Linked DNA regions of Homo sapiens. The protein of the gene in region 1 binds, or shares a complex with, the protein of each later gene. Each region holds a gene or a part of one and is shown in the gene's direction. Other genes may lie near its edges. The genes, in order: KAT2B, RBM10 and KIF11.

Region 1 (7,451 bases):
GAGATGGGTTTTTGCCATATTGGTCAGGCTGGTCTCAAACTCCTGACCTCAGGTAATCTACCTGTCTCGGCCTCCCAAAGTGCTGGGATTATAGGTGTGAGCCACCATACCCTGCTGACTTCTGCCTCATTCTGTCGTCCAAAGCAAGTCACGTAGTTGAACTCAGAGTTGAGAGGTGGAGAAGTGGAAAAAGGTAGTCTATTCCTTTCGTAGGAATAACTGCAAAGTCACATAGCAAAGAGTGTAGATACCAGGAGGGTAAAGAATTTGGCCATTAATGTAATCTACCACATGGGCAAAAATATCTCTTGAGCCTAGAAGCATTTCACAGTTAGAGAATGTTTTGAAGGTTGCATTTCTGTCCACAGACTTGACGTCAGACAAATCTTGGATGTGACCAAATTTTTAAATAAAAGAAGTACCATGAAAGAGGGAAAGAAGAGGACCTTATAATATAAGAAGTGCCATATATTTAGCATATGCCACCATTCCCTTTCACTTCCAAGGGAGATATCACTAATTCATGCAGAAACTCTTTACCAGTGAGCTTGGATTCAGCCTCAGACTTTTTAAAAAAAATCATAAACACCATTAGCAGTCTAACAAGCAGAGGGCATATCAAGTACAAACCCCAGCTACGAAATAAATAGTTTTCAGCATTACTCTTAGGGAATCATGGAATTTGAGGACTTATTGGTCAGATGTCTGAAAATATTGTTACTTGTCTCCAAAAACAAACAACAAAAAATTGTAAAAAAAAGAACTCGACAAAAGTGATTTAGTAAATAATATGTAATACTTCTGGAAGAATCGTCTACAGTCAAGTTACTTTATACTGTTCTGCTCCTTTTCAACTAGAGATAGTGAGAATGCTATGTGGAGAATGTTATATTGAGATAGCAGTGGGATTCACATGTGAGGAAATAAATTAGATCTAGACATCTTAAAAATTCAAAAAATTTACTTGTAAAAATAAATACATGTTATGTCTGGAAAAAACTGGAAAAACCAAACATGAGAATAGAAAGGAGAAAAAAACTACCATGCAATCTCATGAGGAAAGCGGAAGAAAGTTCTCTCTGCCTTTGCATGGCTCTCCTATTGTGTGGAATGGTGAGATTGCATCTACTTGATAGGCTAGTGGTCCTGCTCACTTTGTGAGGCATCATTTTAGGGCAAAAAAGCATTGTAAAAGATAAAGTGTGTCATTTTATAATAGAAAATTAAATCCATAAATTTGTTTATTAAAAATAATTTATGGTATATTTCAAATATATAGCTATATATACATAATATATATGCATACATACACATATGCATATGTGTGTGTGTGTGTGTGTGTGTGTGTGTGTGTGTGTGTGTGTGTGTGTGTATAGCCAAGCCCAGCACAGAGATTCCAATCAGTGGGTAGACTCATGAACAAGCCTGCCAAGATTGAATGAGATGAGCTGAAATCAGCCACCCATCAGGAAACATACGAAATGAATGAGCTATGATAGTAAGTTATTATGGTTTAAGACTCATTTGGGGTTGGTTTATTACATAGCAATAACTAACCAATAAAGCCCAAAGCCTAATGCAAACTGATTTCCGTACATATATGGTGGGGTGCCGGTGGGGGCGGGGTGGAATTAACATGACTACAAGGAGAAATAATCAAATCAACCAACGGTTGAGGCTTTAAACAAACAACTGAGTAATTCATAGGTCAAACAGACAAAAATATCAGTAAGGCTCTTACTGATATCCATACAACATGATCTGTAAGCTGAAGCTAATGGAGTTATAGAGATCAAAATATGAAAATACACATTCTTTCCAAGAAGACACTGCACATTTACAAAAGATTGGTCTTATTTTAGGTCATAAGGTAAAAATTTCAATCCATTTTGACGTTTTGGTGTCATATGGACCATGTTCTCTGACCTTGAAGAGACTATATTAGAGAGTACTAACAAACAATAGCTAGAATCACCCCTTTGCATTTGCAGATGAAGGAACATGTGCCTTAATATTTCATGTATCTAGTTAAAAATCATCATAGAAAGTAGAAAATATTCACAATGAATTGGGTTGGCAGTTATTGTGAGCTCACAATGGCTCTCTTTCCTGTCTTCCTTTGTCACCCCTTCCCCTGGTGGTAAAGATAGAGTTGACCTCCATGCCCATCAATGCTGTTAGAAAATTAGTTGGCGTGTATTATTTGTTTTGTGTTTAGAACCACCCATTGTTTGCCTTTTATTTTGATCATCATAGGAGAAAAGAGGAAAATGACTGATTCTCATGTTCTGGAGGAGGCCAAGAAACCCCGAGTTATGGGGGATATTCCGATGGAATTAATCAACGAGGTTATGTCTACCATCACGGACCCTGCAGCAATGCTTGGACCAGAGGTCAGCAGGGTAAACCTGGGCAGCCAGCTGGTAGACCTCTTCTGCTCTCCTGGCCACTCCAGCTGTCAGAAGTGGGGATGCTAATGCTGAGAGTTAACATGTTATGCTACCCTGGTTTGCATTTAACCTGGTGGTCAGTGTGGAGAGGGCAGGAACAACTGATCAAGAGGTAATTCCCCTTGATGAATATCACATCACAGGTCCACTTACTAATAATCTCACAGTTGAAGGCATCATTCCCAGCTTTTTATCTTGAAAAATTTCAAGCCCTCATAAATGTTGCAGAAATTCTGTAATAAAAATCCATAGACTCTTTACTGAGATTCAGCAGTTAACATTATGCCACATTTGCTACCTCTCTTTCTCTCTGCGCCTCCCCATATGCTCTTTTTCTTTCTCTCCCCACTCCCCATGAACCATTTGGAACCATTTCAGAATTAAAAACACATGTCATAATACTTCACCCCTAACTATTTTTGCATGTACTGTATCTCATAAGGAAGCTATTCTCTTACATAACCACAATGCAGTCATTACTCTTAGAAAATTTAGCCTGGTTACAATATTTTCTAATACAGGGTTGGTGAATTACAGCCTGCAAGCCAAATCTGCTCCACTGGCTGTTTTTTTCAAATAAAGTTTTATTGAAACATATTGTTTGCAGCTGTCTTTGCATTACAACAGTAAATTTGAATAATTGAGACAGGGAATGTGTGGCTTGCAAAGTATGAAATATTTATTATCTGGCTTTTCACTGAAAAGTTTGCTGACCTCTGGCCTAATATAAAACCGTATTTAAATTTCCCATATAGCCAGATGATGTCAGTTATAACCTTTGTTGTTGTTGAAGGATCAGTTAGGGATTGTGCATTGCATTTAATTCTTATCTCTTCATTTGTTTAGTCTCCTTTAAAACAACTCCCCAGCCTTGTTTTGGTCTTTTGCAGCACTGCCATTGGTGAAGAGTCTTGGTCGCTAGTTTTGTATAAGGTCCCTCTTTTTGGATTTGTTGATTGTTTACTAAGGATTAGATTCAAGTAAGGCATTTTTGGTAAAAATGCTGCTGTCATCTCATTGCCTTGCATCTGAGGGCATGCAAGGCAATGACATTTCTTAAGACATACCTGTCTTAAGACATTTCTGACAGCTTCCAGGAAATGAAGAAATGGCTTGGAGATTATATTACAGTGTTAATTTTCAATTTGTCATGTTTCTTTAAATATTTATTTTATGACATTGAGGATACTTCAGAGAACCAGAATGTTGTAATAGAAAAATCTCTTCCTAAAATTGATCTTTCCATTTCCTCCTAGATGTCCAGTCTGTGAGGGCTTAAGACTATAGTTTTTTAGGGATTTAGTAACATTACAGATTAGCTGAGTTTAGGTTTTTTTCAGCTATAAAATGGGGATTTGTACTAGTCTATTGCATTGCTACAAAGAAATACCTGAGACTGGGTAATTTATTTTTTTAAAAAAGAGCTTTAATTGGCTCACAGTTCCACAGACTGTACAAGAATGGCATCAGCATCTGCTCAGCTTCTGGGGAGGCCTCAGGGAACTTATACTCATGGTGCAGGGTGAAGTGGGAGCAGGCACATCACATGGTGAGAGAGGGAACAAGAGAGTGAGGAGGAGGAGCCAGACCCCTTTAAACCACCAAATCTCATATGAACTAACTGAGCAATAACTCATTCATCAACAAGGGGATGGTGCTAGGCCATTCATGAGGGGTCTGCCCTGATGATCCAACACTTCCCACTAGGCCCCACCTCCAACATTGGAGATTGCATTTCAGCATGAGATTTGGAGGGGTCACACATTCAAACTACATCAGGATGCAGTCACATGTTTGAAAATATTTTGGATATATTAATATTTAGTAGTGTACTAGAGCTGGCTTGTACTGGAATGCACAAGAAAATTGTTAAATTTTCAGGAGTTTTGTGAGCTGGTTGTTCCATATGTTGGTAGCTTGAAGTTGACTAGCATGGCACCTGGTTACCTGGATAGCCAGTTCTGGACTAATGAGATGAAGTGTCACCAGTTAGGGCCTTCCTTCCTTGAAGAGCTGTTTGTGGAGCATCTACTTGCAAACCACTAGGCAGATTAAATAAGATGGGGAGCATAAGTGCTGGCACATGGTTGTGCTTCCAGCTATGGTTGAGTGTAGGTCAACAGATATTCTCTGGAAAGAAAACTGTTCTTTAAAAAGAGGTGTTAAGAATATATACATGAGGCCGGGCGCGGTGGCTCAGCCTGTAATCCCAGCACTTTGGGAGGCCGAGGCGGGCAGATCACGAGGTCAGGAGATCGAGACCATCTTGGCTAACACGGTGAAACCCCGTCTCTACTAAAAAATACAAAAAATTAGCTGGGCGCCGTGGCAGGCTCCAGAGGCTGAGGCAGGAGAATGGCATGAACCCGGGAGGCGGAGCTTGCAGTGAGCTGAGATAGCGCCACTGCAGTCTGGCCTGGGCGAAAGAGCGAGACTCCGTCTCAGAAAAAAAAAAAAAAAAAAAGAATATATACATGAGTGCTACTATTGGGCCTGTAATGAGAATTTGAATCTGTCATCTCAAGGGTCCTTAAAGCTCAGCTGGAGAGGATTCCTTGAAGCCAGAGGTTGGCAAACTATAACCCACAGGCCACATTTTGTCTGCTTACTGTATTTTTAAATAAAGTTTTATTGGAACAGTACTGCACCCATTCTTTAACATATTGTCTGTGGATGCTTTTGCATTATAGCAGAAGAAGGAGTAGTTGTGACAAACACCTTATGGCTCACAACGTCTAAAATATTTTCTATCTGGCCCTTCACAGAAAACTTTGCTGGCCCCTAATCTACACTGAATATCATCCGTGTACACATATAATACTCCAATTTCTCAAAATGCTTTACCTGCCTTTTCTGTCTTGTCTTCATAACTTGTATGTGTATGTGTCTCTGTGTGTATGTGTGCACACATGTGTATTTAGGACTCTGAAAATCCACAAATGTGTATCTTATTAGAACAAAGATGAGAAGCTTGGATGTGTCCCATCCCCACTGTCTTGAGAGAATAGCTCTGTGTAATTTTTTCCTGTCTCTTGCATCTCAGACCAATTTTCTGTCAGCACACTCGGCCAGGGATGAGGCGGCAAGGTTGGAAGAGCGCAGGGGTGTAATTGAATTTCACGTGGTTGGCAATTCCCTCAACCAGAAACCAAACAAGAAGATCCTGATGTGGCTGGTTGGCCTACAGAACGTTTTCTCCCACCAGCTGCCCCGAATGCCAAAAGAATACATCACACGGCTCGTCTTTGACCCGTAAGTGGTACTTTCTGTTCCTTCTTCCTTATTTCCTTTTTAAATGAAAGAGGAACTGCTTAGATAGTGAAAGTCAGCCATAGTCATCCACCGAATACTACTGCACCTGTCTTGCTGTGGATACAGAGCTTCACCAAGCTGATTTTCATGTCTGAAAGTGCTAAGAGTAATTTTCAACAATTTACAAATTTTCTTGTTAATGATGATGAAACTTTATATTTTACATTGCTGATGACTCTCCTGTGCTTCATTCTTTATAGCAGTGAGAGAATGTAACACTAAGATGTTCTGCTTTCTTCATAATCAAAATATTGGTTTTGGTATCTTAACTAGGTGCCATTATTGCCCAGGTCTGTGGGCAATTATTGGGATATAAGACAGGTTAACTTTGAAAATCCATTGCTTAAAAAAAAAAAACAAAAAACTAGGCCGGGCATGGTGGCTCATGCCTGTAATCCCAGCATTTTGGGAGGCTGAGGTGGGAGGATCACCTGAGGTTGAGAGTTTGTGACCAGCCTGACCAACATGGAGAAACCCCGTCTCTACTAAAAATACAAAATTAGCCAGGCCTGGTGACACATGCCTGTAATCACGGCTACTTGGGAGGCTGAGGCAGGAGAATTGCTTGAACCCAGGAGGCGGAGGTTGTGGTGAGCCGAGACCGTGCCATTGCACTCCAGCCTGGGCAACAGAGCGAAACTCCATTTCAAAAAAAAAAAAAAAAAAACCCACGAAACCCTAAAGAACTAAACTTCTCTAATTGAATTTATTTTAACATACATAGCCCAGTAGCCTATGGGGACTGTGATCCATGCCTGTGACAATTCAGAGTGATGCTTTAGACAGAGGGAAGGATTCCATAATGCGGAATTTTGCAAATTGTATATGTAAATTTTAAATTCTTTTTCATAATGTTTCTGTAATATTTTGGAGTAAGACTTAACTCTTCAGAGACACATACCATGTTTGTCCATGACTTCCTGCTCTCCCTGACCCCTCCTTGGCACTGGCTGTGCCAGTTCCAGAGCACCTCTGCACATACTCTGTTCTCTATTTGTAAACCTCAGGCACTTCTTAGGTGACTGGTATTTTGTTCTGATGGGAGTGCTGATGACATCTTGTGCAGGCGACCTAGCTCTAAAAAGTTCAGATAAAAGGATGGTCTAGCGAGATAGGGGCTACATGAAGGAAGTTTCTATAGAAACTTAGGACATGTCCCTCTTTCTTAGTTGGTTAATAAGGAACACCCCAAAAAGTATATTTATATAACTAGGATAGGTAAAACTTTGACATAATCTTATTCTTTCAGGAAACACAAAACCCTTGCTTTAATTAAAGATGGCCGTGTTATTGGTGGTATCTGTTTCCGTATGTTCCCATCTCAAGGATTCACAGAGATTGTCTTCTGTGCTGTAACCTCAAATGAGCAAGTCAAGGTAAGGGTAAACCCAAGGTCTTAGAAGAAGAGCAGAATGTGGGGCTTCTCACTAAGGCCTGCAGAGCTTGGGAAGATCTCTCTGTGCCATGTCCAGAGAAGGTTCAAAGTGGAGTTAAGGACTTTCTGGGAATAGTCCTCTCACTCCAATGGTCTCCAACCTTTTTGGCACCAGGGACTGGTTTCACGGAAGACAATTTTTCCACGGGTCAGATTAGGGCTATGATTTTGGGATGAAACTGTTCCAGCTCAGATCATCAGGCATTAGTTAGATTCTCATAAGGAGCATGCAACCTAGATCCCTTGCACGCATA
Region 2 (7,451 bases), on another chromosome or scaffold:
CTTTGCCTTAGAAAGCACTCACATTTGGGATTTGGGATGTAGAGACTGAACTGGGGAGGTCCAGGTAGAAGTGAGGAGAACAGCCAGGCCACAACCAAGGTGCCCCATGAGGGAAGCCAGTGGCATGGACCAGAGAGTGACATAGGGATGGAGAGAGGCAGGTTGCACTTCAGAGATGTGGAGCAGGGATTTAGGAATCCCTGTATGGGGGCGGGCCTGAGGGCTTCCAAAGAATAGAGTAGGGGGAGGGAAAAATAGAAAGTTTACAGGGTGAGAAACCTGGCAGACACTGCCTTAACCAGATGACCATGGTTAACATCACCAGAGCTAAGTCATGGTGGTATCATGTACTTCTTTCTCTGATAGGATCAGAAGGGCACCTCACTTCTGTTGTATGCTCCTCCAAAAAAACCAAAACCCTACGAGAACACATCACCTGGGCCTCTTGCACCTTTTAGAAAGGGCAACCTTCTGATCCCTCCCCATCCTTCTTCCTCCACTAGTGGTGGTCGTGGTGACAGGACTGGCCGCTATGGAGCCACTGACCGCTCGCAGGATGATGGTGGGGAGAACCGCAGCCGAGACCACGACTACCGGGACATGGACTACCGTTCATATCCTCGCGAGTATGGCAGCCAGGAGGGCAAGCATGACTATGACGACTCATCTGAGGAGCAGAGTGCGGAGGTGAGGAGGGGGCGCGCTGCGCCAGGCCTGGCTGGGATGGGCTCCCAAGGGCCCTCTGTGTCTGGCTGCAGCACCGTGTGCAGGCAGCTCTCCACTCCCGTGCCTTCAGACTGTGCTCGGTGGCTTTGCCTCACCTGGAGGGCCTGTTCCCACTCCCCTCTCTGAGGGCTCCTCTCCCAACCTGGGTCTCCCTGGCTTCCACATGCTTGGCTCTGTACTTCTGAGGGCCCCTGGCCACCACTCTTTCCCTTTCTCCCTGTTGTTCAGTTCGGGCCCATGGCTCACTGTGAACCCTGTACTGCCCGCTCCCAGCCAACTTGGGCACTTGAAGAGCCTCTTCCATGGGACCCGGCGTCTGGGGTTGGGAGGACAACAAGGGGACTGCAGACCACCAAGCTGAGGAGCTCTGGGAGGCCAGCCATGGGCATTCCCAGTGGTGATAGAGCCCCTAGACAGAAGGGAAGGACCCTTCTGGAGAAGCCAGTGCCATGTTGGGTAGTTCACCCTAGCCTGCGGGATGAGGCGCGATGTTTACACCATCAGGGAGCCCCCACCCGAGGGGAAGAAACAGGCTTGCCTTAGGGGAATCCCAGTTGGAGGGGCAGTCAGGGACCTGGTCCATGCGAGCAGGCAGCTCTCCTGTCCAGCAGGCTGGGAAGGGAGTTCTTGCAAGCCCAGCCCTGGGGGGCAGTCTGTGAGCTGCCCACTGCCCTCTGGAGGGTCCAGGGCAAAAACCCCTTTGGTGGACTGCCAGGCTTCTCCAGTGGCAGCTGTCAAGCTGTGCCCAGACGTCTCCAGGAGCACTGGGCCCTGGCCAGGGTGGGAATGGAGCACCAAGTTATCTGGTGCTTCCCCACTGTGGGCGGGAGGGCTTTGGCCCCAGGCCTGCTCTGCTTAGTCCTGGAATGGATGGATTGGGCAACAGCCCAGAGCCCAACAGCCATACCGTTTTGAGCGTGGTGTGTGGTGGAGGACTGGCCAAGGCTGAGGATCAGGGACTGAGGAGGGAGTGTCTGCAGCCCTCACACCACCTCCACCAGCTCCTGCTGCCTGGCTCTGGCTGAGATCTGAAGCTGTTCTTATGCCCCCAGCTTGGTTGCAGGGTGGAACCGTAGGAGACATGCAGCCTTCGGTGGTACAGTGAAGCAATTGAGCACACCCCCTGAGCTGGCCAGAGAGGAGAGGAAAATCAAGGGTGGGGTCTGGTGTGCTGACCCCAGGCCATCTTGCCCCAAGGAGGTTTAAGCTGTGTCTTGTCAGCTACCTTTGGGAGTTCCCCCCACACCAATACTGTCACCTACCTCTCCCCACCCACTGAAGGCAGCCCCCAAAAGGACCCCATGGAGAATTTACAGTCCCAGAAAGATTGCAGGCCGGGGCCTGCCCACCCTGCCTGCCTGAGCCTTTAGCCGGAGCCCGCACATCCCTGGCTTTCAGAGCCTGCCTGCCTCACAGAGCCAGCGGCCAGCTCCTAGGCCTGCCCAGACTGACTGCCCGTCTGGTGTCACTCATCTCATTCTGTCGGCCAGGATTCCTACGAGGCCTCCCCGGGCTCCGAGACTCAGCGTAGGCGGCGGCGGCGGCACAGGCACAGCCCCACCGGCCCGCCAGGCTTCCCCCGAGACGGCGACTATCGGGACCAGGACTATCGGACCGAGCAAGGGGAGGAGGAGGAGGAGGAGGAGGATGAGGAGGAGGAGGAGAAGGCCAGTAACATCGTCATGCTGAGGATGCTGCCACAGGCAGCCACTGAGGATGACGTACGTGCCCCCCATGGCCCCGGGCAGGAGGCCAGGCTGGGTCTCCTCCAGGGCCCTCAACTTCTCCCCACCCCTCCCTCACCTGCAACCTCAGCGCCTTTCATCCCTTCTCCCCCTCCAGCTCCTATCCCCCAGCACTGATCCGTCCTCTGTGGGCAGGTCCCATCGGCCCCCCGGTCTGGAGGGAGGAGTGTCAGAGAGGCCGGCTTGGCCAAGGGACATTGGCCATGGGTGTCTGGTAGTGGTGGGTATGGGCGGGAGAAGAGCAGTCCTGCACATTCCACTGGTCATCCAGCCATTTTGCATGTGTGCATCATGGGCCAGACGCTCACCGGGCCAGTGCTGGCTATTGCTGGTAGCAGAGATGACACTGGGGCCCTGTAACCATTGGGGGAGGGATGGGATTTTCTGAAATTTCCTTCTCTTTTTCCCCCATCCTTTTTTGTCAGCAGCCTGGCCTGGCCTCAGAGCCTTGGGTGGCTGCTAACAGCCTCCACGCCTGCCTCCCTTTCCTCCTGTTTCCTTTTCATACATACTTCTCATGACAGCCACACTGAAGCCCCACGAGGCCTACCAGAATAACCTCCAAGAATAGTGTCCTGATCTTGGTCCTTCTTAGTCTACTCCGCCGCCCCTCACCCCCTACCCCCATGAATTCTCTGATCAGCCCTCCTCTGAAATCTGCTAGCTGCTCATTTTGTAACAGAGAAAATCCCACTTGTGTATTTGAGGGTTTCTAAGGTCTGGCCCACCTGCCCTGTTCAGGGTCAGACAGTAGCTGGTTGCTGACATTTGTTGAGAATGTATCTCAGGGTGGGCCATGTGTTAGGTATGATTCAGTCCCCATGGCAGCCCAGCAGGGAAGGTACTCTTTGTATTCCATCCTTCGGATGAGGAAACCAAGCCCTGAGTGGGAATGTGACTTGCCCCAGGTCTCATAGCCAGTGAGTGGCAGAGCAGAGCTGGAGTCTGAACCCGGGCAGCTGGACCCTAGAGCCCACTTTTTGCTGCTTCCTCAGCCTTCCCTGAGTTTGGAGTCCTGATAAGCTCTTCTGTGTGTTTTTCCTTTTCACCCTGTGTATGGGTGTGTGTAAGGCTAATGTCCTGTCTGTTGTTTAACCTGGTGGGGAAACTGAGGCCCAGAGACATGAAGACTCCTTCCCAAGAATGGCTGGCATAGGCTCCTGGTCCTCAGTGAGAGACCTCACTGGCCTAGAGACCCTGCCTCACCTGGGCCAAATCCTGAATTGCCTCTGCAGTTTCCCTCTGGCCTACTCCATCTGGGAAGCAATCCCCAGGACTACATCTTTTTGCTTTTTGTCTCCACCCTAAGTTATTGCTACAGTCATGGTCTAGGGCACATGGCTGGGATTTGCTCAGACTCCTGTCCTCCCCAGTTTGACATTTATGTCATGGATCTCTTTTGACGCAAGCTGCAGGTCAGCAGGGCAGGGGCGGGGGTGCGGGTTATCCCCTTGCCAAGGGCAAGAATTGCATCCCAGGTTTCCTTACTTCGTGGCTGCCAGCGAGCCCTTTGTCAGATCACCCTGCCCACCGTTCTTAAGTGGCTGGCTCACTTGCTCTCTTGTTCTCTGTGCCCCTGAGGGTCGTCCTGCTGCCATGCTTTACCTTGCTCTGTGCCCATTTCTTCATTTGATTCACTTTCTGCAAGTCTGGGGCTGAAAGTCAAGACTGTGAACTGGTGTGGGCCTGGGGCTGTTGTCACTCAGGGAAAAGCTGCGAAAGAGGCGGAGGAGACTGTGTGCACATCACCGATGACCCCTCGGGATCCAGAGGCCTCCAGCCAGCCTCAGGTACCCAGCGGCCCCATTGTGCTGAGCCTGCCCTACTCTGTATCTCCCCGTATAGATCCGTGGCCAGCTGCAGTCGCACGGCGTGCAAGCACGGGAGGTTCGGCTGATGCGGAACAAATCTTCAGGTGAGCTTTTGTTCTAGTGCCCTCCCCTTCAAGTGGCCAGCCTCAGCCTCCGAATCTCCCTCCTGCCTCTGCCTTCTCCCCCACTCCCTCCACCACCTTCCTGCCACAGCTGGGAATGGGCAGCGTGGGGGGTGCCCTCTCTTCTCTCCCACTCCCCACACTCTCCTCACAGCTCCAGCCAAAAGCCTCTTCAATGGGGCTGTCGGGGCAGGGGTGCAGCTCTGAGCTGAGCTGGGTGCTCCCTGGGGTCAGGGCCAGGGCCAGGCTCCCAGGCACCTCCTCTCTGGGACTCTGAGTATCTGAGATGGTAACCCCCTCCCATACACTCCCTTCCCTCTCCTTTCTTCTCCTTCCTCTGCCCCTCACTTTCCCCCACATTTTTTGGTAACAGCCTCTGACCAGAAAGTAGCTCTGACGTGGTGGTCCCACATGTGTGTCCCAAGGGGGAAGCAGGGGATGGCTCTTATCCAAGGACACATCCCAAGGAACAGCCAGGACTTCCTGGCCTCGCCTGTTCCCTCCCTCCCTCCCTCTTGCAGGCTGCTTGGAGCTGGCCTGAGGTTAGCAGGGTGGTGGTGGGGGGAGTTGTCTCTACAGGACCTCTGCCCAGGCTCCCCAAGGCAGGCACAGTGGGGCCTCACTCTGCCTGGGCTTCTCTCTCCATCTCTCAGTCTCTCCTCCCCACACCTCCATCTCTCTCTCTCTCTCTCTCTCTCTCTCTCTCTCTCTCTCTCTCTTTCTCCCTCTCTCTCTTTCTCTCTCTCTGCCCCCCCCAACTATATTATTCATTCCATCCTCCTATGCATCCTAACGGTTATTCTTTTGAACATTAAGCATGCCCCCCCAAGCCCCTCTCATCCAAGCCCTCCCCATGTATCTGCCTCTAAAGGACATGCTATCCTGAGGCCTCAACCCTGAATCCCTTTCCCAAGCCTGGAATCTTGGTTGCATGTAGGTCTTGCTCTGCATCACCCCAACTACACCACACACGGACAGCTTCTGGGTCTCTCTCTCCACAAGGAGGTGTTCCAGGTGCGGCCTTCTCAATGGCCCTGGGCGCTTCTCCCAGGCACCCATTGATTCTTACCTCTAAGGTCCTCCTGGCCAATCCTGGCCACCATTCTCCTTTTGTCCAGGGGAACCTGGACTGTTTGTGGCTGTAGTCTCCACCCTGTGGCCCTGAGGTGGCTCCCTAGCGAGGCCCGCCTCCCCTGCGCTGCGGTGAGGCTGAGATGAGGTCGTGTCTTTAACCGCCCCTGGTTTCCAATGGGCCAAGAGCCTTCCTAGCCTCGCAGAGCAGCCTGGCCCAGCTTCTCTTTTGCTCCTGTGATTCAACACCTGTTACAGGACCCCTCCTGGGCACCCCTGGCCTTGAGCTGGGCCCGCCCTGGAGTTACGTATTGTGGCTTGTGTGGAGCCAGCAGCCTGCCCACCATCCCCTCCCTCCTTCTTTGGAGGCAGATCTCTCGTATTCTTTCCCTCCCAGCTGCTTCTCTCCGTCTCTGTCACCCCAGGCTGGCTGGGCAGGTCTGCCCGAGCCCCATCTCTCTCTTCCCAGTTGGTGTGTGTGTCTCTCCCCCTACCGACCTCTGGCCTCTGTTTTTCTCCCTCCACCTTCCCTGCCCCACCTGGCCATCTACCTTGCCCCCCACGCCCGCTAGTCTTTCTCTCTCTGATTGCCTCTTTCTCTTTCTTCCTTTTTCCTCTTCCCCTTTCCCTCTCTGCCCCCCGTCCTCTCCCCTCGGGTCCCGCCCCCGGGAACGCCGTGTGTCCAAAGCTGTTGACTAACCCACTGCGTCTGTATCTGAATGCTGTCTCCAGGTCAGAGCCGGGGCTTCGCCTTCGTCGAGTTTAGTCACTTGCAGGACGCTACACGATGGATGGAAGCCAATCAGGTTGCTTTGCCGCACTTGAACCCCCCCCCAAACAAATACTACTTTGTAATCGAGCGCTCCCCATCGCCTGATTCTTATGGACACAGTTCCCTGCCCTGTGGCCCTGTGTCCCATCCCCCCGCCCCCTCTCTCCCCTTCCTGACCCTCACTATCTCCTCTTCCCATCTCTCGCTACCCCACTGGGCTTCTCATCCAGAGCCCACACTCACCACTGGCCCCTTCCTACCACCAGGCACTAGTGCTGCCCCTTCACCTCTCCCAGCTGAGCGTTCAGAGAAAGAGCTGCCAGGGTGGGTTCTTTCACCTAGCTTCCCACTCCCCCGGGGCTGGTGGGGGGGGCACCCCTCTCTGGGGTTAGCCAGAGCCAGGACCTCATTCCACCCTCAGGACCACTGGAAGTCCTGCCAGTGAGGAGCTTAGCTATTGGCACAGTCACTAGCAAGACTCATTTTGTCAGCCCCATCCCTGCATGTGAATTTGGCCCTTTGATTTTCATGCAAGGGGACAGCACTGCTCTGTTGATCTCAAGTTCCCGTCGAGTATGATAGTTTTATCGACACCCTGGCCTCACTTCGCCGCCCCTACCCTTCCTATCACATCTCCACACTCGCAGGAGGCACCACCTCAGGCAGCTCTGTCTTCTCGGCAAGGACCTGTGCACAGTCAGCCCTGGGGGGAGCCTGTCCCCCAAGCCTGGCACGGGATCCCAACTCAGCAGCTTTGGGACCTCCGAGACCCAAAGATCTGCCTGGTCACCCACCCCTGCCCAGATCCCTGGTGTAGGGCACTGGAGAGCAGTTTCAGGGGAGGAAGGGGCAGAGGTGGTAGAATGGGGGATCCCGGCAGAGGCAGCCCTGGGGCCGTCTCCTCGGGGTTGGTAGGCTAGTGCCATGGGCCCAGGACCCAGCCATCCATGGGAAGACGGCCTCATGGCAGAAACTTCCATCTGTTCGAAATGGCTCTTTCTTTTTCCCCTTCTCCAGCACTAGCGCACCTGCGCTCTCTTTCTCTTTTTCTCCCCTCTCCCTCCCCCTCCCTGTCTCCCCTCACCCCCCAAGTGTAGCCTGTGTAGTCCTGGCCCTGGGTGTGGCCTGGCAGTGTCAGGGCCGAGTGGGGGTTTCTCCCCACTGTCCGGCAAGCGTCGGTCAGCCGAACACTGTGTGCCTGGTG
Region 3 (7,451 bases), on another chromosome or scaffold:
AACAGAATAAATGACTGATTGTCCAATTTAGGGACTAGACAAGAGGCTGTAGTAGATGCCCTGAAGTAACATTGCCTAGTAAGAGGAATAAAACAAGTAGACAGATTTTGAAAGCATCATAACTGGAGGAGGGTTGTGAAAGGTTTCATGAGCAAAGATGATCCTTTCAAAGGTCATTTAATGGCAATGCTGTGAAAAGACAGTGGCCAAGGCATCCATTCTCAATGCAGAAGATTTACTAAGATCACGGGCCCTGGAGCCAGACTGTCCACGTTCAGATCTGCCACTTAAGAGCTGAGTGATCTTGGGAAGTTATATATCCTTTGAGTCTTAATTCCCCATTTCAACAGTGTCATTCTCTTTTCCTATAGGAAATCTAAGGATATAGTCAACAAAATGACTTTTCACAGTCAAAAATTTTGTGCTGATTCTGATGGCTTCTCACAGGAACTCAGAAATTTTAACCAAGAAGGTACAAAATTGGTTGAAGAATCTGTGAAACACTCTGATAAACTCAATGGCAACCTGGAAAAAATATCTCAAGAGACTGAACAGAGATGTGAATCTCTGAACACAAGAACAGTTTATTTTTCTGAACAGTGGGTATCTTCCTTAAATGAAAGGGAACAGGAACTTCACAACTTATTGGAGGTAATAACTTTGTAAGTGGAACTTACTTTGGGGAGAATAATAATCAGAAAGTTAAATATTCTTGGCTAAGAATAGATTTCAAAACAAATGATATTTTAAGCTATAATGACTTAAACTTTTAAGTATAATATTTGGTATGCTTACAGATGATCTCGTTTTGTGCTTTGTTATATGTCTTCTCAATCTTGGAATTAATTTAACATTTGTACAGTTTCTTTCCTGTATTTATCCTTGGTTTCTGACTTAGTAGTTTCTTCAAAGAAGGGCACCCTGTCTTTTGATATGTAATACCTTCCACTTATATATGCTTTTTTTTTTTTTTTTTTTGAGATGGAGTCTCACTCTGTTGCCCAGGCTGGAGTGCAATGGCACGATCTCAGCTCACTGCAACCTCCGCCTCCCAAGTTCAAGCGATTCTCCTGCCTCAGCCTCTCGAGTAGTTGGGATTATAGGCACCTGCCACCACACCCGGCTAATTTTTTTGTATTTTTAGTAGAGATGGGGTTTCACTATATTGGCCAGGCTGGTGTCAAACTCCTGACCTCATGATCCACCCGCCTCGGCCTCCCAAAGTGCTGGGATTACAGGCATGAGCCACTGCGCCCGGCCTATCTTTGCTTTTTACTTTTCTCCAAGTACATTCAAACCTATTATTATTTTAAGTATTTAGGTTATTGTTCTGGTAACTAAAGGATACTTGATAGGTTTATGGATTTGCTTGAACTTAACGCTTGCATGAGCCCTTTGTAACTTGGTTTTTTCTTTCTTTGCATTAATAGGATTTTACTAACATTCTCAGGAAGTAGGTACAAAGAATTAAAATTTTTAATCTATATAAGCTGTTTTCACTAAAAGGAACTAGAGTTTGTATACAAATAGCTAATTTCAGATTTGTGATAGGAAATGTATAATATATGAGCCTAGAGATCTTGTCATACCAGAGAGTAAGGAAGCTGTTAAAGATTTCTGAGGTTGTCAAAAGGTCTTAGTAGCCAACCTCCCCATCTTCAAAGGTGGCATAATTTGAGCATCAAAAAGAATAATGGCCATAATGGATTAAAACATATCAAATATATTAAAACTTACGAACTCATAAAAATTTCATAGGTCTCCTTTGGATCATGCTAGGGAAGCAACACATTGTCCTGAAAATGGGTAAAGAAGAAGAAAAAATTTAGCATCCATCTGTCTTTCCTAAAAGAACCATATCTTGGTTTAGCAGGGTAATGAAGAAAAGTGTTTCATTAGACTCTAAGCTAATAAAATGGAGAAGAAATGATAGAATTAATATATCACCAGTATGCAACTCTTAATAAAATAACCCCTGTGGATGTTAATGATGGCTTAAACCATTTGATCAAAAGCTGTTGGGGAACTTTATAATTAATAGGCTAACCATACCTGAACTCACTGATAAATCTTAACATGAGAGACACAGCAAAGCATTTTGTGCTTGCAGTACTACCTATGAAATACTCTTGCTAAAAAATTAAACCTGAATTAAATCAAGCCTTTAGGTCTAACCAGTTTGTAGAAAATAAAGCATAGAAATGCAGTTGACCAAATCCAGAATTTGAGATGTTCAATGGGGTAAAGACCTCATGTCTTCAGCAACAAGTTTTTTTTTTCAAGGGAAAAAATATGAGAAACAATAACCTGTATATCAAAAGAGACTTAAGACTAGAGGTCCTTAAGTCTTAGTTTGCCTGAGACAGTCCTTGTTGATATTGTTGTATTAGAATGATTATTAAGAATGGGCCCTTTCACTCCAAAAGGTGTCCCAATTTGGATGATAAATTATATAGTCACCGACTTAAGACCTATGAACCAAATCTAGTGGTGAATTCTGGTTCAAACAAAGCAATTGTGACACACATTTGAGACGACTGGTGAAGTTTGAACATGGACTAGACATTTGATAGGAAGGAATCAGTGTTAACCTTTTTAGATGTGATAGTGGTCTTAAAGTGCTCTTACCTCTTAGAGATACATGCTGAAGTAAATGGATGAAATGATACAGGATTTGTTTCAAAATAATCCTGGGTTTATGGAGGAGTTGAGTGGCCAGTCCTGTTGGTAAATGTCTGTACTCCACTTGTTGGTAAATGTTGAAGCTGGGTAATGAATACAAGGGAGTTAATTATACTGTTCTCTCTACTTTTGTATGTGTTTTTAAATCTTTTATTACTGAAGGCCAGGTGTGGTGGCTCATGCCTGTAATCTTTGGAGGTCAAGGTGGGCAGATTGCTTGAGCCCAGGAGTTTGAGACCAGCTTGGGCAACATGGTGAAATGCCATCTCTTCAAAAAATACAAAAATTAGCCAGGCATGGTGGTACATGCCTGTAGTCCCAGCTACCTGGGAGGCTGAGGTGGGAGGATGGCTTGAGCCTGGGAGGTCAAGGCTGTAGTGAGCACTACTCATGCCACTGCACTCCAGCCTGGGCAACAGAGTGAGACTTGTCTCCAAAAAAAAAAAAAATTATGGAAAAGGTAAGGGAAAATATGATGTTGAATAAAACACTGGCAACTTTAATTTTAGTAATAAATATTTATTTGCATCATTTACAGGTTGTAAGCCAATGTTGTGAGGCTTCAAGTTCAGACATCACTGAGAAATCAGATGGACGTAAGGCAGCTCATGAGAAACAGCATAACATTTTTCTTGATCAGATGACTATTGATGAAGATAAATTGATAGCACAAAATCTAGAACTTAATGAAACCATAAAAATTGGTTTGACTAAGCTTAATTGCTTTCTGGAACAGGATCTGAAACTGGATATCCCAACAGGTACTTTAAAAGAGAAATAGAATTGTTAAATTTTTTGAAGTCGAATTCAACTCTATGTAGTGTCAGATGTTCAGAAAAATTAGGTCCTGCCATTGCCTGACAGAAATTTAACATCTCACTGTAATCAACTCAAAATGGGAAAACTGGAACCTTAAAATAGTTTTAATCAAGTGTCATGATACAGGTGGTATCACAATTCAGTATAATTTCACATACTTTCAGGGAGTTGACTTTGTTAATAGGGGATTTTTTAAAACAAATACAAACCTAGCACTGTTTGTAAAAGGACATTTTAATACCACAAATATGGGAGAGATGTAACTGACTAAATCTAGTTTAATGCAAAGTTTACCACATTGTGCATTTTGTTCTGTGTCCCTCTCATTTTGTCATAGACTATTGCCATTTAGGAATCCCTGTTTTAAGAGATCAGGGATCACCATGGACCATTAGCATTTAGGAATCAACATTTTGAGAGATCACATATGGCAAAGATCATTATAGGCTGTAATGATTCAGGGAGGTCTTCATGGAAGAGATGTAACAAGCTGTTTTACACAGCATGAATAATTGGGTTCTTCATTGGATTATGGTAATGGTTGCACACCCTGTAAACTCACTAAAATCCACTGAATTGTACACATAAAATGAGTGTTTTATGGTATGTAAATTATATCACAAAACTCTTTTTTTTTTTTAATTTAAAAAGCAATTGTTAAAAGGGGATGGTGCTACATAGAATGTTGGTTTATTTATTCCCCAAGAGACCTGTAGGATTTACTGTCTACTTTTCAATGAAGTTAGGAATGTAAATGTTGAGTGAAAAGGCAAGTACTTTTGTAAATCATGAGAGCATGAGCTTATTACAGAGAAATATAACTGGGGGCCTGATGCGGTGGCTCACACCTATAATCCCAGCACTTCGGGAGGCAAGGCAGGAGGATCGTTTGAGCCCAGGGGTTCAAGACCAGCCTGGGCAACATAGTATATGTATATAACTAGTTAATATTTAACCACCACACCACATTTATAGTGAAATGATTACTCCTATCAAAGTAATCATGTTGGGAAATCTACTCATTCCAATAATGCTGCCATTTTTTTCAGAACACTATAACTCCTTTTAGAGCTTATAACACATCTTTTATATATCCTCAGAGATGGTAAACTTCATGTTTTAGAGAGTAGGATGAATCTTGAAAACAGTAAAGTCTGTCATCAAATTAGAAAGTATTGTTAGTTGCAAACAATGTCTGACAGGTAGCAAGACTGATCCTCATATATGGCAATTATATTTTTATATTTTTAGAAGACAAGATTAATTAGGAAGTTTTAGGTTTTTTTAAAAATATTTACATCTCATACTTTAATTTTTACCTCTTATCTAATGTCCGTTAAAGGTACGACACCACAGAGGAAAAGTTATTTATACCCATCAACACTGGTAAGAACTGAACCACGTGAACATCTCCTTGATCAGCTGAAAAGGAAACAGCCTGAGCTGTTAATGATGCTAAACTGTTCAGAAAACAACAAAGAAGAGACAATTCCGGTAAATTTAAAGGATCATATTTTATAATAGAACTCTTTTATGAACTCTTGATGTGGCTGACTTCATGTGAAGAATTTTACTGTTTACCCCTCAATCTTACCCCGCCTCTCATTAATGATAGGCCTAGCCCTTAGGCTTGTTTCTTTTAATCTTACTAGTTTTTAAATTATGCTAGTAGATAATAATAGCCAATACTTAATATTGTGCTTAGTAACATTGTTATATAGGAACCTCTACTCTCTATAAAAATATATTAGGAATTATTTTCATTAATTTGTAGACTTTCTAATAATTTTGTTGAGGTTTAACTTTTATATTATACCATGGGCATTGTGTTATACTCAAAGCTGCTGTTACTCTTGTGATGACTTTTAAGCCCTTGGACTTAGTCACTCATCCAGTTTCTTCTTTTAGGATGTGGATGTAGAAGAGGCAGTTCTGGGGCAGTATACTGAAGAACCTCTAAGTCAAGAGCCATCTGTAGATGCTGGTGTGGATTGTTCATCAATTGGCGGGGTTCCATTTTTCCAGGTATGTCATATCAGATAACCCTTCCACATCTGATGTAAGTCATTCATTTACTATTCATTATAAAGGTATTGTTCGTGGTGAGCAGAACAACAAAAACCTTTCAATTATTCCTTAGGATGGCTTGTTAACGCTTATGATTTGAATTATTTACAAAAATCTGATATTGATAAGGGGTTTTCTGTAGAATAAATGAAGGCAGAATTTGACTTAATCTACATCCTTAGCTGATAATCTTTAGCTATTGTATTTATTCCTTTTCTGCTTGCTATATACTCAGACACTGAGAGCAGTCATTTCTCTTCCTTCTACCTTTGACATGTAAGTCTTGGAACCTATCTCTGCCCATAATCAGACTTTGAAGGCAAAGTGATTGAAAAGATTGAGAGACTGGAGGCCTCTTAGGTTATATTAGTGATTTCTCCTGCCTGAGGCTCTTCTCTTGTAAACTGTTGCCCCATGTTTCCTGAGCACCTTGCCTGCTCTAATCCAGTGTAATTAAATCCTGTGACCTCTCCTACCCACTCTTCTTTTTTTTTTGAGACTGAGTCACCCAGGCTGAAGTGGAGTGGCACGATCTTGGCTCACTTAACCTCCGCCTCCTGAGTTCAAGTGATTCTCCTGACTCAGCCTCCCGGGTAGCTAGGATTACAGGCATGCACCACCACACCTGGCTAATTTTTTTGTATTTTTAGTAGAGACAGGGTTTCACTATGTGGGCCAGGCTGGTCTCAAACTCCTGACCTCAAGTTATCTACCCTCCTCGGCCTCCCAAAGTGCTGGGATTACAGGCGTGAGCCACTGTGCCCAGCCCTCTACCCACTTTTTTTTTTCTTTTGAGACGGAGCTTCGCTCTTGTTTCCCAGGCTGGAGTGCAATGGCACGATCTTGGCTCACCGCAACTTCCACCTCCTGGGTTCAAGTGATTCTCCTGCCTCAGCCTCCCGAGTAGCCAGGATTACAGGCATGTGCCACCATGCCTGGCTAATTTTGTTTTTTTTTTTTTTTTTTTTTTTTTTTTTTTTTTTTTTTTTAGTAGAGGGGGTTTCTCTGTGTTGGTCAGGCTGGTCTCGAACTCCCAACTTCAGGTGATCTGCCTGCCTCGGCCTCCCGTAGTGCTGGGATTACAGGTGTGAGCCACCGGCCCGGCCCCTCCTACCCACTTTTTAACACTGTTGAGAACATAGTTGGTTTATGATTCATCTCAGCATTGATGACTGAGTACACAATCAATGTCACCAGTCCCTTAATGTTCTCTATGGGTAAGTAGGAGGATTCCAATGAAATACAACTTCCAAGTGAGGCTCTATAAAGTGCTGGTATCTTTTCCTCTAATTTGAGGGTACAAGCCTAGACAGAGTGTGTGAAGGAAAAATTTCCTTACGTAGGACATTGGTATCTACATTTACAGTTGAAGTTCTACTTCTGAGATGCATATGCTTGTACCTTTTTTTTTTTTTTTTTTTTTTAAATATATATAGAGAGAGGGTCTTGCTATGTTGGCCAGACTGGTCTTGAACTCTTGGCCTCAAGCAGCCCTCCTACCTCAGCCTCCCAAAATGCTAGGATTACAGGCATGAACCACTGCGCCTGGCTGCTTGTACCTTTTTTGTGTGTATGTCTTGTTTTGTTTTTTTGTTTTTGAGACGGAGTTTTGCTCTTGTTGCCCAGGCCAGAGTGCAATTGCCTGATCTTGGCTCACCACAATCTCCGCCTCCCGGGTTCTAGCGATTCTCTTGCCTCATCCTCCCGAGTAGCTGGGATTACAGGCATGCACCACCACACCTGGCTAATATTGTATTTTTAGTAGAGAAGGGGTTTCTCCATGTTGGTCAGGCTAATCTTGAACTCCCGACCTCAGGTGATCCGCCCGCCTCGGCCTCCCAAAGTGCTGGGATTACAAGCGTGAGCCACCGCGCTCGGCCTGT

What was found.
Region 2: KAT2B (region 1) and RBM10 share a complex: the UniProt entries of both Homo sapiens proteins name them as parts of the large chromatin remodeling complex.
Region 3: KAT2B (region 1) and KIF11 share a complex: the UniProt entries of both Homo sapiens proteins name them as parts of the large chromatin remodeling complex.

Annotation. Positions count from the first base shown.
Region 1 is NC_000003.12:20,120,412-20,127,862, forward strand, and holds part of KAT2B (histone acetyltransferase KAT2B), read left to right. Parts: intron 1-2,256; coding exon 2,257-2,393; intron 2,394-5,493; coding exon 5,494-5,702; intron 5,703-7,011; coding exon 7,012-7,138; intron 7,139-7,451. UniProt on the Homo sapiens protein: Functions as a histone acetyltransferase (HAT) to promote transcriptional activation. Has significant histone acetyltransferase activity with core histones (H3 and H4), and also with nucleosome core particles.
Region 2 is NC_000023.11:47,168,812-47,176,262, forward strand, and holds part of RBM10 (RNA-binding protein 10), read left to right. Parts: intron 1-503; coding exon 504-687; intron 688-2,216; coding exon 2,217-2,447; intron 2,448-4,316; coding exon 4,317-4,386; intron 4,387-6,207; coding exon 6,208-6,281; intron 6,282-7,451. UniProt on the Homo sapiens protein: Binds to ssRNA containing the consensus sequence 5'-AGGUAA-3'. May be involved in post-transcriptional processing, most probably in mRNA splicing. Binds to RNA homopolymers, with a preference for poly(G) and poly(U) and little for poly(A).
Region 3 is NC_000010.11:92,644,992-92,652,442, forward strand, and holds part of KIF11 (kinesin-like protein KIF11), read left to right. Parts: intron 1-371; coding exon 372-651; intron 652-3,220; coding exon 3,221-3,443; intron 3,444-4,843; coding exon 4,844-4,995; intron 4,996-5,409; coding exon 5,410-5,526; intron 5,527-7,451. UniProt on the Homo sapiens protein: Motor protein required for establishing a bipolar spindle and thus contributing to chromosome congression during mitosis. Required in non-mitotic cells for transport of secretory proteins from the Golgi complex to the cell surface.